Homo sapiens: one gene and its partners. The protein of the gene in region 3 interacts with the protein of the main gene of each other region in a pairwise test. Each region holds a gene or a part of one and is shown on either strand. Other genes may lie near its edges. The genes, in order: RAB5A, SLC18A1, HTATIP2 and FITM2.

Evidence for each region.
Region 1: the proteins of HTATIP2 (region 3) and RAB5A interact in a protein complementation assay, tested with the Homo sapiens proteins (one study listed by BioGRID).
Region 2: the proteins of HTATIP2 (region 3) and SLC18A1 interact in a two-hybrid assay, tested with the Homo sapiens proteins (one large-scale study listed by BioGRID).
Region 4: the proteins of HTATIP2 (region 3) and FITM2 interact in binary tests that used the Homo sapiens proteins (3 or more experiments, as listed by UniProt).

The regions. Positions count from the first base shown.
Region 1 is NC_000003.12:19,953,518-19,958,273, forward strand, and holds part of RAB5A (ras-related protein Rab-5A), read left to right. Parts: intron 1-4,756. UniProt on the Homo sapiens protein: The small GTPases Rab are key regulators of intracellular membrane trafficking, from the formation of transport vesicles to their fusion with membranes.
Region 2 is NC_000008.11:20,161,381-20,166,136, forward strand, and holds part of SLC18A1 (chromaffin granule amine transporter), read right to left. Parts: intron 3,728-4,756; coding exon 3,667-3,727; intron 3,585-3,666; coding exon 3,489-3,584; intron 1-3,488.
Region 3 is NC_000011.10:20,376,815-20,381,570, reverse strand, and holds part of HTATIP2 (protein HTATIP2), read right to left. Parts: intron 1-4,756. UniProt on the Homo sapiens protein: Represses translation by preventing reactivation of elongation factor eEF1A. May also inhibit nuclear import by competing with nuclear import substrates for binding to a subset of nuclear transport receptors.
Region 4 is NC_000020.11:44,304,931-44,309,117, forward strand, and holds part of FITM2 (acyl-coenzyme A diphosphatase FITM2), read right to left. Parts: intron 2,311-4,187; coding exon 1,695-2,310; 3' UTR 1-1,694. UniProt on the Homo sapiens protein: Fatty acyl-coenzyme A (CoA) diphosphatase that hydrolyzes fatty acyl-CoA to yield acyl-4'-phosphopantetheine and adenosine 3',5'-bisphosphate.

The DNA of each region.
Region 1 (4,756 bases), on a different chromosome or scaffold from region 3:
ATGCCTCAGCCCCCCAAGTAGCTGGGACTACAGGCGCAAGCCACCACTCCTGGCCAATTTTTGTATTTTTAGTAGAGATGGGGTTTCACCATGTCGGTCGGGTTGGTCTTGAACTCCTGGCCTCAAGTGATCTGCCTACCTCGGGCTCTCCAAGTGCTGGGATTACAGGCATGAGCCACTGCCCCTGGCCCAACTTTCTGTTAATCTTTATTGGATACTTTTTCACTGTGCTGACCCCATGTGAATACTATTCAGGAGGTATGACAGTACCATTATGGTTATAGCTGTGGACACTATTCTTTTATGCTCTGTACTCATAGCTCTTCACCTTTAGGAACTAGAGTAGATGTAAAGCATTTAAGAATTTTAAGGTTTGAGCTATTTCATGATCAACCTGAAAGGGCCATAACTTGTAGGTAATACGTATTTTTGTTTTGACTGTCATGTGGTAGAAGTTACCTGAAAAATGAAGCCAACCAACTCTTTTGCATTTCAACTGTTGGTTTATTTTTTTTGAGACGGAATTTCACTACGTGGCCCAGGTTGGAGTGCAGTGGTGTGATCTAGGTTGACTGCAACCTCTACTTCCCAGGTTCAGGCAGTTCTCCTGCCTCAGCCTCCTGAGTAGCTGGGATTACAGGCCCACACCACCAATCCCAGTGAACTTTTGTATTTTTAGTAGAGACAGGGTTTTGCCATCTTGGCCAGGCTGGTCTCAGACTCCTGACCTCAAGTGATCCACCTGCCTCGGCCTCCCAAAGTGCTGGAATTATAGGCGTGAACCTCCACGCCTGGCCTCAACTGTTTAATTTTTCACTTTACTGTTTATATCTCCTAACATGAGTTATTGTTCTGAAGCACTCAAAATTTTAATCTCTATTTGATTGTGTTCGAAGGTGGATATCATATGTTACACTCTTGATTTGTGGATTCTGGATTCATTAAGAATATCAAGATTTCTTCTGTAATTTGTGTGGTTCTTCCTAAATACAATAACTTGATTTACGAATTCCTGTTGCGCTGTGTGCGGTGGCTTGCATCTGTAATCCCAGCACTTTGGGAAGCTGAGGTGGGCAGATCGCTTGAGTCCAGGAGTTTGAGACCAGCCTGGCCAACATAGCAAAACCCCGTCTTTACAAAAAATACGAAAATTAACCGGGCATGGTGGCACACACCTGTAGTCCCAGCTACTGAGAAGGCTGAAATGGGAGAATTGCTTGAACTGAAGAGGCGGAGGTTACAGTGAGCCGAGACTGCACCACCACACTCCAGCCTGGGTGACAGTGAGAACCCTGTCTCAAAAACAAAACAAAACAAAGAATCCCTGTTGCCTCACCATACTTCATGCATCCTACCCCTATAGCACTTCTGATGAAATTGCGTGCCGTAGATTTAGCAATTTAGAGAATTCTAGCTTGTTTGTATGGGTTTAAAGTTTGCATGACATTTATGTTTCTATTGTTGGTCTAAAGTTAGCCCAGAGATTAGCAGGGAGCAGTAGGCTCAGAGAGTTGTCTTCCTTCTTTACTTGGTACTGCATCTCTAGGCTTGGTAGCTCTTCAGTAAATACTCTCAAAAAATACTTATTTTTAAGAAGACATTTATGTGATATTTATAAACAAATTAATCCTCAGTGGTTAGAATATGCAGTGAAATAGCAAGCAGACAATCCTTTTTTTCTCTTCTGAGAAAAGTGCTTCATACCACAGTTACAATTTTGTATGCACTAATCAAAAAATGTGTTATAAACTCTAAAGTTTAGATGATGGAACTGTACATGAAAATAACATTCCTCTTGCTGGTTCTGTGATTTTTGTACATTAGCTTAGAACAGTGGTCCTCAAAGAGCGTTCCCACTTCCAGAAGTAGCTGCATTAACTAGGAACTTGTTAAAATGTAGAATCCCGTGTTGAATCAAAACATTTGGGTGGGACCAACAATCTAGGTTTTAATAAGTTTTCCAGATGATTCTAATGGCATGTTACGTTTGAGTAGTTGATTTTACATTGGTACTAACATTGATTCACCCATACATGGAATAATTGGGGGGTTTTTTTGAGGTGTGGTGTTTGTCAGATTTTTAAAAACATTGTTGACTGGGCGCGGTAGCTCATACCTGTAATCCCAACACTTTGGGAGGCTGAGGCGGGCGGATCACGAGGTCAGGAGTTCGAGACCAGCTTGCCAATGTGATGAAACCCTGTCTCTGCTAAAAATACAAAAATTAGCCAGGCATGGTGGCGTGCGCCTGTAGTCCCAGCTACTTGGGAGGCTGAGGCAGGAGATTCGCTTGAACCCAGGAGGCGGAGGAGGTTGTTGCAATGAGCCGAGATCATGCCATTGCACTCCAGCCTGGGTGTCTCAGCGAGACTCCGTCTTAAAAAAAAAATTGTTCATGCAACTAACCTAGTTTGAGAATTACATGTATTATGTACTGCTCACATTACATGTTATCTGTATCTCTTTATAGGAGAATGCCTTCCTGTTAGCCACCTGCCAGACATCTTTAGGAAAGTATGATCCCTCTGTCCAATCAAGAGTATTCTGCTTTTTCTCTACTTAGGGAGTACCCATAGTTTTCAGTCATCTGTACCACTGCTGCTCTCCTTTCTTGTCACAAATGATCAAGGCCTGATAATACACAAAATTAATTAAGAAATTTAGTGTAGGCCGGGCGCAGTGGCTCATGCCTGTAATCCCAGCACTTTGGGAGGGTGCCAGCACACTGGCAGATCACGAGGTCAGGAGTTCGAGACCAGCCTGGCCAACATGGTAAAAATACCAGAATTAGCTAGGCGTGGTGGTGGGTGCCTATAACCCCAGCTACTCAGGATGCTGAGGCAGGAGAAACATTTGAACCCAGGAAGCGGAGGTTGCAGTGAGCCGAGATCGCGCCATTGCACTCCAGCCTGGGCGACAGGGCGAGACTCCGTCTCAAAAAAAAGGAAATTTAGTGCAATTATTAACTCTTAAGTGAAGTGCTGTTTCTACTTACATATTTAACATCCATCTAAATTGGTTAGCATGGCCAACTAGTTGTTTTTAGTCTAAAACAACCTGTAACAGGAATAAAAGTTACTGTTAAAATGAAGAAAAACAAGGCTTATTTCAAAGTTATTATTAACATACTATTTTACCTAACAATTTATGGCCAAGTCATTCTAAAGAATAAACTATTGTGGTTAAGAGAGACTGTATCCAGATTGAAGTTTTTACCACAATGCCTGGCACAGTAAAAGGTTTATTAAATTATAGCTATTACAGTTACCATCACCACTGTTAACTTTTGGCTGAATCGTTTTGTCATTGTTGATATTTTTGTTGTTTGGTCATGACATACTATTATCTTGAGATGGTAGCTGTTACACCTAGTGCATAGCGTTTGATTTAGAAAATTTGAAGATTTGAAAAATTTTGTGTTTTTTTTCCTTTTTTTTTTTTTTTTTAAACAGCCTGCTCTGTTGCCCAGGCTGGTGTACAGTGGTGGCATCAAAGCTCACTGCAGCCTTGACGTGGCCTCAAGTGGTCCTCCCAGGTAGCTGGGACTGACTATAGGCATGCACCCCACACTTGGCTAATTTTTTATTTTTTTGTAGGGACAGATCTCACTGTTGGTGCCTAAGCTGGTCTCAAACTCCTGGGCTACAGCAGTCCTCCCACCTCAGCCTCCCAAGGTGCTGGGATGAAAGGTGTAAGCCACTGTGCCCAGCCCAACTGTGTTATTTGTGGAAGTTTCTCAGAGGGAGAAATTACAGGGCTAAAGTACTACACGTGTGCATATATTAAAGTTTTTTCCAGTAACTACTTAATAATGTGTACTTGAAAACTGCTAAATTCTTAAATGTCCTCACCATTAAAAAATAGTAAGTGCCGGGTGCATGGCTCATGCCTGTAATCCCAACACTTTGGGAGGCCAAAGTGGTCAGATCGCTTGAGACCAGCCTGGCCAACATGGCCAAACCCCATCCTTACTAAAAAAAAAAAAAAAAGCAAACATTAGCTGGGCGTGGTCGCGCATGCCTGTAATTCCAGCTACTCGGGAGGCTGAGGCATGAGTATTGCTTGAACCTGGGAGGCAGAGGTTGCAGTGAGCCCAGATAGCGCCACTGCATTCCAGCCTGAGCAACAGAGTGAGACTCTGTCGCGGAGGTTGCAGTGAGCTGAGATAGCACCACTGCACTCCAGCCTGAGCAACAGAGTGAGACTCTGTCTCAAAAAAAAAAAAAAAGGTAAGTAGGCGAGGTGATCAATATTGAATTACCTTGATTTAGTCACCTCACAATGTGTACATGTATCAAAACATCATGTTAATATACATATGTATATATTGTAAATACATAACGATTTTTATTTTTCAACAATACCTTAATAAAGCTGGGGGGAATAAAGTTACTTCCTAAACAGAAAAGCTAGCCAGAAAATTTAAATCCAAATAACTCATGTTTTTCCAGTAGTAGAAAGCTTTCTACAATTGCCCTTCACTTGTTAGCCTTCAGAATGACTTCTTTGTATAATTATAATCTGTGCATTTATTTAATGTGCTTTTACCTTTTTGCATGTGCACATTGTTAAAAGTGCTTTTGAGAAAGGATAGAAGACCTAGAGACCAAACCACCAGCATGTGGTTTTTGATTCGTGAGAAAAATTGTGTGTTTGAAGTATTCATTCTACTTTCTGATACATTGATAGTTAAAATTTGTGGAAGTTAATCATTTGGTTTCAAGCAAAATAATAATATCTTTGTTCATCATATTTT
Region 2 (4,756 bases), on a different chromosome or scaffold from region 3:
AAAATAATACAAAAAAGAAAATAATACAGTATAACAACTATTTATATAGCATTTCCATTGCATTAGGTGTTACAAGTCATTGAGAAATGATTATAGTACATGGAAGTACGTGTGTAGATTATATGCAAATACGATGCCATTCTATGTAAGGGACTTGAACATCCTTTGAGTTTGGTATCCGTGAGGAGTCCTAGAACCACTCTCCTATGCACACCAAGGGATAATTTACCTACTTTCAAAAATAATGGTGGAACAAAGATAGAACAGGCATTCTTATTTCAAAAGGAAGCAACAGGGAAGAAGAAAGGGGTAACAGGTCCCACGAAAGTCCAAAGCCCAAAACAGAAAACAATATTATGTCTTAAAGCTGGAGAATAATTGCCTTTGACTCCATGTCCAAAATCCTGGGCACACTGGAGTGGAGTTTGGACCCCTAAGGCATCAGGCAGCCCCATGTCTGTGGTCTTTCCGGGCTGAGTCTACCCAGCAGCAATCATGGGTTGGAGTCTTGTGCTTGCAGGCCACCATGCTGGTGCCCCTACAGTTCCGTGATCTTGGAAGTGGCTGTGCATGGCATCTTTTGAAATTTAGGTGGAAGAAGTCATGCACCCATAGCTCTTGCATTCTGCGCACGTGCAAAATTTGCACCACATAGACACCACCAAGGCTTACCACTTGCACCCTCCAGAGTGGGAGGCCAGGCCACATCTGGGCCCACTTGAGCCATGGCTGGCACAGTTGAGGGGCACTGCACTGAAACGCAGAGAGCAGAGTCCCAAGGTGGTCCTGGGCAGTGAGCCCATGGAGGGTGTCCCAGGCTTATTCCCAAACCATTCTGCCCTCCTACATCTCTGGGCCAGTAATGGGAAGCACAGCTTCGAAGGTCTCTAAAATGCCTTTGGGTCTTTCTCCCACAGTCTTAATAAGTGGTGCCTGGCTCACTTTTATCCACACTAATCACTTTAGGTTGCTTGGCCACAGTCTTGGTGTGCTCTCCTAAAGATGCCTTTTCTTTCTTTCCAAGGCCAGGCAGCAAATTTTCCAAGTCTTTCTGTTTTGTTTCTCTTTTAACCATAAATTTCACCTTTAAATCATTTCTTTGCTTTCACATGTCACTATATATGCAGTTAAAACAGCCACAAAGCAGCCTGAAGCTTTGCTGCTTAGATATTTCTTCTGCCAGATATCCTAGTTTATTGCCTCTAAGTTCTTCATTCCATGAAGTCCTAGGTTATGGATACAAGTCTGCCAAGTTTTTTGTAACTGTATAACAAGGATGGCCTTTACTCTAGTGTCCAATACCTTGTTCCTCATTTCTATCTGAGACCTCGTCAGAATGACCTTCACTGTCCATATTTCTATCAACATTCTGGTCACAACCTCTTAACCAATGTCTAAAAAGATTCAGACTTTCTCTATAGCTCTCCTCTTCTTCTGAGCCCTCACCAGAATCACCCTTAATGCCTTAACCACAGCAATACAGGCTCTTTCTAGCCTGCTCCTCCAAATTATTGCAGCCTCTACCAATTTTCCAGTTCCAAAGCTGCTTCCATATTTTCAAGTATTTGTTATAGCAGCAGCCCGGTTTCTCATTACCCATTTTCTGTCTTAGTCCATTTTCTGCTGCTATAATATAACAGAATACCAGAGTGCATGATTTATCAATGAAAGAGATTTATTTGGCTCAGGGTTCTGGAGGTTAAGAAGTTCAAAGGCAAGCCTCTAGTGTCTGTTTGGCCACCTGGGGAGTGCCTGGTTGCTGGATCATAACATGGCCAAAGGGGGTCACATGGAGAGAGAGCACACATGAGAGAGATGTAAAGGGAGCTGAACTCCCCTTTTATTATGACAAACTCACTCCCATGATAATGGCCTTAATCCATTCATGAGGGTGCTCCCATGATCTCATCATCTCTCAAAGGTCCCACTTCTCAAGACTGTTGCACTGGGGATTCAATTTGCAACATATAAATTTTGGGGGACACATTCACACCATATCAGAGGTCAAAGAGGTTAAATAACTTATCCGAGGTCACAATCAGTAAGTGACGTGGTCAGCATTCAAACCCAGGTGGACCTGGGCTATTTCCTCCCCTTGGTGATGCTACCTAGTATATGGTGGGCCACATAGCAAGCACTCAGAGGCAGACTACACATTACTTTCAAAAGCATGGACTCCTTTGGCTCCCAACACCTTTGAGGGATGCTCTTCATGTACAGCAGCGATTTTCTAGGTGTGATCACTGACCAGCTATATTAGCATCACCTGCAGACTTACTAGGGATGAAAACTTGTTTTGACTAAATTGCCTACTGTCTCCCAGCAATCAGAGTTTTAACAAGCTCTCTAGGTGATTCTGATGTAGTTGTTGGACAACCTTTGATGTCAGACTTTACAGACCAGATAGCATTGAGAAAGCTGTAAAAGATGGTGGCAACTGAGTGACTGGTAACTGAGTAATTGGTAACTGGCAACTGAGAATGGTCCCTAGGCTGCTGGGGAGGAGCTGCTCTGTGTTGTAGCTGCTCACTAGTATCGAGACCCTGAGTGGTCAGAGCCTTAGGGCAGGCGATGAATTATCTGCACTGAATACCGACTAACTCAATTAATCGTCATGGTCAAAAGCACTTGCAACCCATAAAAATTCAATTTGGCACTAGGAGTGCAGCTGGGAGTCTTGCTTAGAATTGCCCCCCCAAAATTAGATTTAGTGCTTTTTATTGCATGCTGAACTATATCATGTTCTTATCAGCTTCCCCTCTGGCCCCGTAAGCCTCTCCTCCCTGCAGTGATGGAGCAATTTGCACGTAGCCTTCCCTGTCCTCTTTCCTCAGGGTTCCTGGGAAGGGCTAGATCCTCCTCTCCAAGCTCCTCTCTAAGTCGCTGCATGAACAAAGGAAGCTGGAACCCTCTCTCCTGGGCCCATAGCTTTTCCTAAGTGAGTGCTACATACACCCCTTTTTAGAGGTAAAAAAGATAACCAAAGGGTAGTCTTGAGGATGAGGAGCTGAAGGGAGGAGAATGTGGATGGTAATGGTGCACATTAATATTGTACAGGGTACAAAGCATTTTCACCTCATATGTCATTTATTCATCCAATTTCTCTTGAACTAGATAGTATTTTGATGCTCATTTTAGCAATGAGAAAAGTGATGCTCAGAGGGTTTAAGGCATCTGCACAAGTTTTCACAGAAAATCAAAGGAGCTGAAACCAAAACCTGAATCTTTGGACTGGAAATCATTAATCATCCTACTACACAGCTAGGTATGTGACCTCTCCATAGCCCCTTTCATCCTCTCTCACCCTCCCCTTTCTCAGACTGCTTCTCTGAGGGACCACACACCCTCTTGGGCTTGATTCATGGGTGTGGACGTGGGAGGTCATTCTACAAAGGAAGCATGTTGTCCCTGTGTGACATTGAACGAAAGGACTCATGGCACCCACCTCCTCCTGCCAGGCCCTGAGCGGGGGTGCTGAGGTCACTTACCCAGCTGCCACTTGGGGGAGCACATGGTCTGCATCATCCAGATGGGCAGTGTGGGCTCCAGGATGGCCACCCCCATGTTGGCAAAGCAGATGGACCCTGGGGAGACTGTTCTGTGAGCAGCCGTGGCTGCTTGAAGCCCAGACACTCCCCGCCCAATGGGAGGTCATCGCCAGCTTACCTGCAGCCACCAGGATGTAAGGGTCTTTGAGAAGCATAAAGAGGGGAGTCCCCTTGGCACTCTGAGAACATGGATAACAAAAAATGTCCATTTGTACAGTGCATACATCTCTCCTATTTTCACAGAATCTGAGAAAGTACAATTATGGGCTTAGAGACCATCTACAGTATCTCCTTTACTGCAGAGACCAGGAACCCCAGTACAGGGAGAGAAAGTGACTTGTCTGATGCCACAGAGGAAGCTGGAGGCAGGACCCCTCCTGTGTGAAAGGTAGGCACTGTAATAGTCACAGATAGAGAAGCAACATATTCCAGCCATGGTTCCTGCGTTCACGTGACCATCAACAAGGTCAGAGTGGATTGGTAGCAAGGTCAGGGTTGGACAATAGATGTCTGGACTCCTGGTTTCCACTAGATCTCCCTGGTACTAATATTTGTCCTGGGAGAACCACAGGCAGAGCACCGAATCCCAAAAGCAAGCACAGAAGCCATAACTCAGAAAGCCTCTCAAGCTTTCTGAATTCTTCATTCTGATCATTTTGAGCCACACTGAACTAAGGTAGAAGAAGCAGGGTTAAAATACAGCCTAAACATCCAGGACCCACTCTCGTCAGGACACACTCTCATCTAAACTTGGTCGCCCCACCCTCTTTCCAAGCATCCCAGCAGTGCCTCAGCCATCATTATTGCCTTTGCCTAAACTACACGTTCTGAGCTTCTCCATAGTTCCATGTTCTACCCACTCTTTAAAGTCAAGCTTAAATGGCTCCTTCTTTTCTAGAGAGCTCCCTGACTCAGTAGCTGGGGCTTCTCTCTCTTCCAGACATCCTGAACACTATGTCCTAATCCTTCATGGTGTTTACTACTTTCTATCTTGTAATAGATTGGATCATTTTGGTATGATAACCCTCTCTGCACACACACAATAGTGGATTGATAAATTTAGAGATCCTAAAACTAAAGAGATCATTCGCTTACCCAATTATTATTCGAAGTAAAGAAACTGATGTAAATCATTAAAATATACATTTAAAAGTACAATAAACCCTTTGACCCAACAGTCCCACTTCTAGGAATTGACTCTAAAGATT
Region 3 (4,756 bases):
GCCTGTGTGTACCACTCAATTGGCACTTAACCTGTCTCATCACAGACATTTAAGTAGCTATTTTTAAATATCTTTTTCTTTTTAAAAATTTTTTAATTTTAATTATTTATTTATTTATGTATTTTTTGTGTGTGATAGAGTCTCACCATGTCACCTAGGCTGAAGTGCAAGGGCATGATCTTGGCTCACTGCAACTTCCACCTCCCAGGTTCAAGCAATTCTCCTGCCTCGGCCTCCCAAGTAGCTGGGATTACAGGCATCCGCCATTATGCCTGGCTAATTTTTGTATTTTTAGTAGTGACGGGGTTGTCACCATGTTGACCAGGCTGGTCTCGAACTCCTGACCTCAAGTGATCCACCCGCCTCAGCCTCCCAAAGTGCTGGGATTACAGGCGAGAGCCACCGCGCTTGGCCATTCTTTTTTTTTTAATAGGTGGTTTTTAGTATATACACAGAACTCTGTAACCTTCATCACGATCTAAGTTTTAAAATATTTCATCACCCTGAAAAGAAATCCCATATCATTAGCAGTCACTCCTCGTACCCTACCCTCTGGGGACCTAGTCAACCACTAATGTACCTTCTATCTCTATAGATTTGCCTATTCTGGACATTTCATATAAATGAAATCATATAATTCGTGGTCTTTTGTGACTGTCTCCTCACACTTAGCATAATATTTTCAAGGTTCACCCATGTTGTAGTATGTATCATTTCTTTTTATAGCTGAATAATATTCTATTGCATGAATATATCACATTTTATTCATCTATTCATCAGTCGATGGCTATCTAGGTTGTTCCCACTCTTTGGCCATTATAAATAATGCTGCTATGAACAGTCATACACAAGATTTTATGTGTACACACATTTCTTAGCTTTTTTTTTTTTTTTTTTTTGAGATGGAGTCTCACTCTGTCGCCCAGGCTGGAGTGCAGTGGCGCAATCTCAGCTCACTGCAAGCTCCGCCTCCCGGGTTCATGCCGTTCTCCTGCCTCAGCCTCCCGAGCAGCTGGGACTACAGGCACCTGCCATCACGCCCGGCTAATTTTTTGTATTTTTAGTAGAGACGGGGTTTCACCGTGTTAGCCAGGATGGTCTCAATCTCCTGACCTCGTGATCCGCCCGCCTCGGCCTCCCAAAGCGCTGGGATTACAGGCGTGAGCCACCGCGCCCAGCCCATTTCTTAGCTTTTTAAAAGATTTGTTTTGTCTCTATTAGCAGTGTGCATAAAAGAGATACCATAGCAGGCTGAGACTGCTATCCTTAGAAAGGCCTGTTACAAGTTTGGCCCCTGGCTTGTGCTTGCAACCTTGGATTTTCGGTGTGTTCCCACCATTCCCTATCTGATAAGGGTCATGTACTATGCCTAAACTGTCTGTACAAACAATGTGGTTTATGCTGAAAACTTGCCTTTCTTCTGGAGGGCTGCAATTTGGCTAGGCCAATGTGCCTATGTAACTGGCTCCCATAAAAACCCTGCATTCCTAGGCTCAGATGAGTTTCTCTGGCAGAAAACGTTCATCGCTGGAGACATTAAGCACATCCTGTGCAAGCTCTATGGGGAGAGGCCTCTTGGAAGCTTGTACCTACTTTCCTCCAGACTTCACCCGACACACCTTTTCCCTTTGCTGATTTTGCTCTATATCCTTTCAATGCGATAAGTTGTAGCTGTGAGTATGACTATATGCTGAGTCCTATGAAACCTTCTAGTGAATTACCAAACTTGGGGGTGTCTTTGAGGATCCCTCAATACAAGCAGATTATAAACTCCTTGAGGTCAAGGATGATACCCAATAATAAAATGTCACATGTCTGGAAAGTATACCTTCACCCTGAATAGATGAGGAAACCAAAGCTTATAAACCCTGAGAACAGAGGACATGAGGCCCATCCAGTACTCTGGGCTCCACATCCTGACACGTCTCCCCACGGCACCAGCAGAATGCCCATAAAGCACATGATTGATCCAAGCCCCCAGAGCTGGCCCACCATGAATGAATGCAATTGAAACTTCATTGAGTAGAATAAATGTTCCTAAACAATAAAGGAGTTTCTAAAATTGGGTGGGGCGGGGGAGTTCATACACACATGGAGGCTGAGAAAATAGGCAATAAATACTAGGAATGTTACACACAGTAGTTGAAGGATTATTTTGGAAAGATAATCTTTCCAAATTGTAAAAGCAATTATATATTGTTCAGCGTCATTCTGGGTTGGATCATTTGGTTGTCATTTCTGTCCTTTATTAATCTAATTCATAATCCCAGGCTGCAGGTAATGCAGGCCAATTGCAGTGAAATCAGAAGTGTCTTTCCGTTGTATTGGCCTTAATATTTGCTGAGGCTCTGTCACGGTCCAATCTCTGCTGGGTCCCTTTTGCATGTATTAGTGACAAAGGCTATTCATTACTTAATAGCTAGTGGCATAGGCCTTGGAATCAGCCTGGGTTCAAGCTCTAGCTTTGCCGCTTAACAGCTGGTGTTTTTGTTGTTGTTGTTGTTGTTGTTGTTTGTTTTGTTTTGTTTTGTTTTTGAGACAGAGTCTCACTCTGTCCCCAAGCTGGAGTGCAGTGATGTGATCTTGGCTCACTGCAGCCTCTGCTTCCCGGGTTCATGCAATTCTCCTGCCTCAGCCTCCCGAGTAGCTGGGATTACAGGCATACACCACTGTGCCAGTTAATTTTTGTATTTTTAGTACAGACAGGGTTTTGCCACGTTTCCCAGGCTGGTTTCAAACTCCCAGCCTCAAGTGATCTTCCCACCTCGGCCTCCCAAAGTGCTAGAATTACAGGCGTGAGCCACCGTGCCCAGCCAACAGCTGGTGGTCTTAATATCACAGTACCTGTTTCCACGCAAATGCACATAAAAGCCCTCAGAATACTGCCTGGCTCATTTAGTGTTAGCTATTTTTTTAAAAATCTGGTTAAATCATTATTATAACCCAGTGAGTCAGTAGTAACGCCTTTATCTTTAACAATGAGGAAATATCTTATGTATATTTTCTTTCCTAAAAGGTATAAATGTTGATCTTGCTAATGAGAGCAAAAATCCTATTTGATAACCTTTCTCAGAACCCACATGTGTCAGTGTTTTAAAAAACAAGTTGGGCCTGATCCCTCATGCCTGTAGTCCCAGCTGCTCAGGAGGTTGAGGCTGGAGATTGTTTGAGCCCAGGAATCTGAGGTTGTAGTGAGCTGTGACCGCACCACTGCACTTCAACCTGGGTGACAGAGCAAGACTTTGACTCTAAAAAAAAAGGAAAACAGATTTTTTCCTTTTAAGAATTGTTCTAAACTCTGACAATTAAGTGGAAACTTTTCCATTCTTCATGTAATTTCATTGGTGGCTCACTGATCTTCATCTGGTTCAAAATACTATTTTAGGATAGGTGAGATATGGCTCAGCTATAAGCCATGTGAAAAAAATCTGGAAATTTTTAATATTACAGGCTGATCATGAGCCAACAACATAATAAGGATGTTTGGTAAAATAGTAACAATCTTATATCCTATTTTTTTAAAAAAACATAGTGTTCGGAGCATGAATAGTACTCCCAGTGCAGTTCCAGTATAATATCACTGCAAAGTTCACCCTTAGCAAAGTGATGCAGTCATGAAGGAGCTAGACACAGGAACCCATAAAGAATGGTGCAAGGATTTAAAGGTGTTATGCCTGGGAAACATACAATTAAGGGGGTCATAATCTCCAAATGTCTTAAAAACTACAATGCAAAAGAAAGACTGGACGTATTTTTGTTATTTTAAAAGGCAGAACTGATAACAATTTGTATTTACATAACAATAAATTTCACTTCAAGGTAAAGACTTTTGGACAAGTAGATCTGACCCAAAATAGAAAAAGTTGGCTAACGAGATAGTAATCTCTGTAGTGCTGGAGATATTTAAGCAGAAAGGAGATGAACTTCTGTAAAAGGACTTCACATAGGAAAAGTCTATGGCTGAATGACCTCTGTGGCTCTGCTGCTTAAACTGTGGGCACCTGGGGTGCAAAGGGAGGCACACAAAGACAAAGCCATGCCTATCTTCCAACAGCATCAATTTAACTGAAAGGTAAGTTAATAGAAACCTTTTAAATTAAAATAAACAGGGATATGTATAGTACTAAGAATAGCAAAATGTGCATAAATTTTTAAAAGATAAAACGTTAAGACTTTTAAGAAAGTTGAGGCCAGACGCAGTGGCTCACACCTGTAATCCCAGCACTTTGGGAGGCTGAGATGGGCTGATCATTTGAACTCAGGAGTTTGAGACCAGCCTGGGCAACATGGCAAAACCCCATCTCTACCAAAAATACAAAAATTAGCCAGGCATGGTGGCTCATGCCTCTAGTCCCAGTTACTTGGCGGGGCAGAGGCTGCAGCGAGCCAAGATCATGCCACTGCACTCCAGCCTGGGAACCTGTCTCAAAAAAAAAAAAAAGAAAAGAAAGTTGAGTCTGTAACTAGAATACTGCTTCAGGATAGATTTCTCCAAATCTCTACACAAATAAAAGCTCTTCTTTCCGCTCAGTCATTAGGGAGACTGACGGAAAAGTTTAAGAATCACTGCCTCCAAGTCTCTTCCAATGCTAAGCTGCCATGCTGACAGTCAAGGCTGGAGATGCCATATCTCATTCCATTTGTTGCTGGATAATTAATAGAGAGGAAGACATTGGAAATTACCTTTCCAATCATTCCTGTTTACTAAATATATTCCTGCAGTCCCGTAGCCATACAAATGCATAATATGATGCAT
Region 4 (4,187 bases), on a different chromosome or scaffold from region 3:
CAGGCTGGTCTCAAACTCCTGGGATCCAGTAATCCTCCCACCTCAGCCTCCCAAAGTGCCAGGATTATAGGTGTGAGCCACTACACCTGGCCCAGGTTTCATTGCTAACAGAGAAAACAGCCCCATGAGGTGGAATTTAAGACTGTAAGACCAGAGTTTGGTTCATAACAAGTACATTAGTGTTCTAAACCAACCAACCAATCAACCAGCCAACCAACCAACCAACAAACCCTCAAAACAACCTACATGTGCCAGAGTGCAGCACTGGCCTTGTGAGTTATTTTCAGGAGTTTTATCAACAAAGAACAAATGTCACAGTTCTTATCAAAAACTGTAAAGGATTCGCTCAAAATAGAACAGAAAAAAAGTAATCTTATTGCTCCAAAAAAACCAGCATATAGTAATAGAAAACATGGACAGAAAATGATCATAGTCCATTACGTATGAATCATCCAATACTTGGTCGGAGAGGCACTGCATCTAAAAGGGCCTGTTTTGGTGGCTAATCGCAAGTCAGTTGCAATATTTAAACACTTCATGGATGAAACAAATATTACAACCAGAGAGTGTCCTTCAGGCATCAGGCTGTTTTTATAAAGAACCCTGCCTGAGCCGGGCGCGGTGGCTCATGCCTGTAATCCCAGCACTTTGGGAGGCCGAGGCAGGTGGATCACCTGCGGTCAGGAGTTTGAGACCAGCCTGACCAACATGGAGAAACCCCATCTCTACTAAAAATACAAAATTAGCCTGGTGTGGTGACGCATGCCTGTAATCCCAGCTACTCGGGAGGCTGAGGCAGGAGAATCGCTTGAACCTGGGAGGTGGAGGTTGCGGTGAGCCGAGATCGGGCCATTGCACCCCAGCCTGGGCAACAAGAGCAAAACTCCATCTCAAAAAAAAGAAAAAAACCCTGCCTGAAATAGATGCCTATGCAAAACTGACCAGTGGGAAATACTGTTTTGTTTTGTTTTTTCTTTTTTGAGGTGGAGTCTGCTCTGTCACCCAGGCTGGAGTGCAGTGGTGCGATCTCAGCTCACTGCAACCTCCACCTCCTAGGTCCAAGCAATTCTCCTGCCTCAGCCTCCTGAGTAGCTGGGATTACAGGCATGTGCCACCACACCCAGCTAATTTTTGTATTTTTAGAAGAGACGAGGTTCGCCATGTTGGACAGGCTGGTCTCGAACTCCCAATCTCAGGTGATCCGCCTGCCTCGGCCTCCCAAAGTGCAGGGATTAGAGGTGTGAACCACCATGCCTGGCTGGAAAATACTGTTAAGTAACAGCAGTAAGAGCCGTGAAAATCTAAAGACAACTGGAACCAGGGAGAAGGCAGCAAAGGAGTCCCAAGGCTCTGGCCACTCCTTTAGCCACACCATAAAGGCTTTCCTGATTCTGCCCTTTTGCTGAGCCTTAGGTCCCCACTCTAGGGACAAAAGGAGTGTTCCAGATAAAGGTCAAGTCTTACCAGGGACAAAAAGTGCCTAACTGGGAATGGTGGTGCTTGCAACACTGGTGATGTCGCCAAGAATAGTCTGAAGACTAAACTCACTCCCCAGACTTCAGCACCACCCACCAAAACTGCCTGGTACACTTTCCCTCTGAAGTAGGATCAATAATTTAGCCAAATAACTAAGCAAAATATATATTTGAAAAATAGATTAGCCATTGTCCTTCTGTCCCCCCTCTGTTACTCTTTTATTTCTTGTAACTATCTTGCTTCAAATTCAAACTACAGCTCTGGGGAGGAAGTCCTGGGGAAAAGGCTTTCGGATACCAAAACCCGTATGTCCCGTACCAGCTCAGCAAACCAAACAAGGTGCCAAACACCTTCTGGGACAAGTTGTGGAAATAAACAGCTGTGCACAGAAACATCAACACCCAGATGAAAGTCAGAATGCCCAGGGCCACAACCAGGGTGGTGATGGCGGTGTGGAGGCAGTGGCTTCGGTCCGTCTTCACCTCATGCAGCACAGACATCTCTTCTACAATCATGAGGGCGCAGAAGGTCAGCAGGAAGGAGTGACCTGAGATGTCAAAGCCATGCCAAAAGCCCCCTTCCTGGTGGCACTGCTGCTTGCTCTGGTGTTCCTTTCTGACCCCCTCCAGGGCTGGGGACTGGTAGCAGCTGCCCGTGTAGTGTTCGATGTTGGAGAAGATGGAGGTGCAGATGTACCAGATGGCCGTGCCCACAAGCAGGGTGCTCAGCCGCCGCAGGACCAAGCCAGCCTTGCCGGTCAGATGGTAGTTGGTGAGGGCAATGAAAGGCAGAAGGAGACAGAACGTCCAGGCCCAGGCCACTTTGACAAAATACCTGACAGAGGAGGAAAGTGGAAGTGAAGAGAGGGAACACGGTGGAGAGGACACCATGTCAGGACTCAGGTCTCTACACTGTCAGGGGAGGGAAAATGAGAAAACTGATCAAAGCTACAGCTCATAGCAACTATCATGTTTTAGGTACTTACCATATACTTCACTTACTAAGTACTTTATTTATTTATTTATTTATTTATTTTTGAGACAGAGTCTCGCTCTGTCACTCGGGCTGGAGTGCAGTGGCGCAATCTCAGCTCACTGCAACCTCCGCCTCCCGGGTTCAAGCAATCCTCCTGCCTCAGCCTCCCAAGTAGCTGGGATTACAGGTGCGCATCACCCCGCCTGGCTAATTTTTGTATTTTTAGTAGAGAGGGGGTTTTACCATGTTGGCCAGGCTGGTCTCGAACTCCTGGCCTCAAATGCTCCGGCCACCTTGGCCTCCCAAAGTCCTGGGATTACAGGCATGAGCCACTGTGCCCAGCCCTCCCCTCCTCCCCTACCCCACCCCTGTGTAAGTACTTTAAATGTATTAACCAGGTAATCCATTAACAACTCTATGAGTTGGCCGGGCGCGGTGGCTCACGCCTGTAATCCCAGCAGTTTGGGAGGCCGAGGTGGGCAGATCACGAGGTCAGGAGATCGAGACCATCCTGGCTAACATGGTGAAACCCTGTCTCTACCAAAAATACAAAAAATTAGCCAGGCGTGGTGGCGGGCGCCTGTAGTCCCAACTACTCGGGAGGCTGAGGCAGGAGAATGGCATGAACCCGGGAGGCGGAGCTTGCAGTGAGCCGAGATTGTGCCACTGCACTCCAGCCTGGGCGATAGAGCGAGACTCCATCTCAAAAACAAAACAAAACAAACGAAAAAAAACAACTCTATGAGTTAAGTACTGTTAATATCTGCCTTTAACAGAGAAGAAAACTGAGACAGAGGGAAGTGCCACACCAAAAGTGGAGGCCAGAAGCGGAGGAGCCAGGATTCAAATCCAGGATCTGTCGTCTTAAGCACTATGTTATTTACTTAGGAAAATAATATAAATAAATAATAATAACTGAGCATTTACCAAATGCCAGGAGCTTTCACACACATTCACTTTCCCATAGAGCACTCACATTTACCCTGGGAGGAAGGTGCCATTGTTCCATTTTATAGACAAGAAATCTAAGGCTCAGAAAAGTTCAGTACCTTGCCAGGGTCACACTCACACAACCAGCATGAACAGATTAAACCACGGTTTGGATAGCCCCCAGACTCATGCTGTTTCTCCCATACCATATGTGGTTTTTTATTTTTTATTTTTATTTTTCTGAGACAGGATCTCACTCTGTCCCCCAGGCTTGCGTGCAGTGGCACAATCACACCTCACTGCAGCCTCAAACTCCTGGGCTCAAGCAATCCTCCTGCCTCAGCCTCACAAATAGCTGGGATTACAGGTGTGTACCAATGTGCCTGGCTAATTTTTTTTAATTATTATTTTTGTGGAGATGGGGCCTTGCTATGTTGCCCCCACTGGTCTTGAACTCCAGGCCTCAAGCAATTATCCTGCCTCAGCCTCCCAAAGTGCTGGGATTATAGATATGAGCCATGCACCTGGCCTGGTTCTTTCCTAATGGCAGAAACAGTCTTACAACAATGAGCTTTACTTTAAGCCAAAGACACGGGTTCAACTCTTGACTCTGACTTAACTTATTATACCTCCTACCTCTCCAGCCCTCAGTTTCTTCAGCTATTAAACAGAGCTGGGGGGACCAAATGATTTTTTTTTTTTTGAGACAGAGTTTTCACTCTTATTACCCAGGAGTGCAGTGGCACGATCTCGGCTCACTGCAACCTCCGCCTCCCGGGTTCAAGCAATTCTCCTGCCTCAGCCTC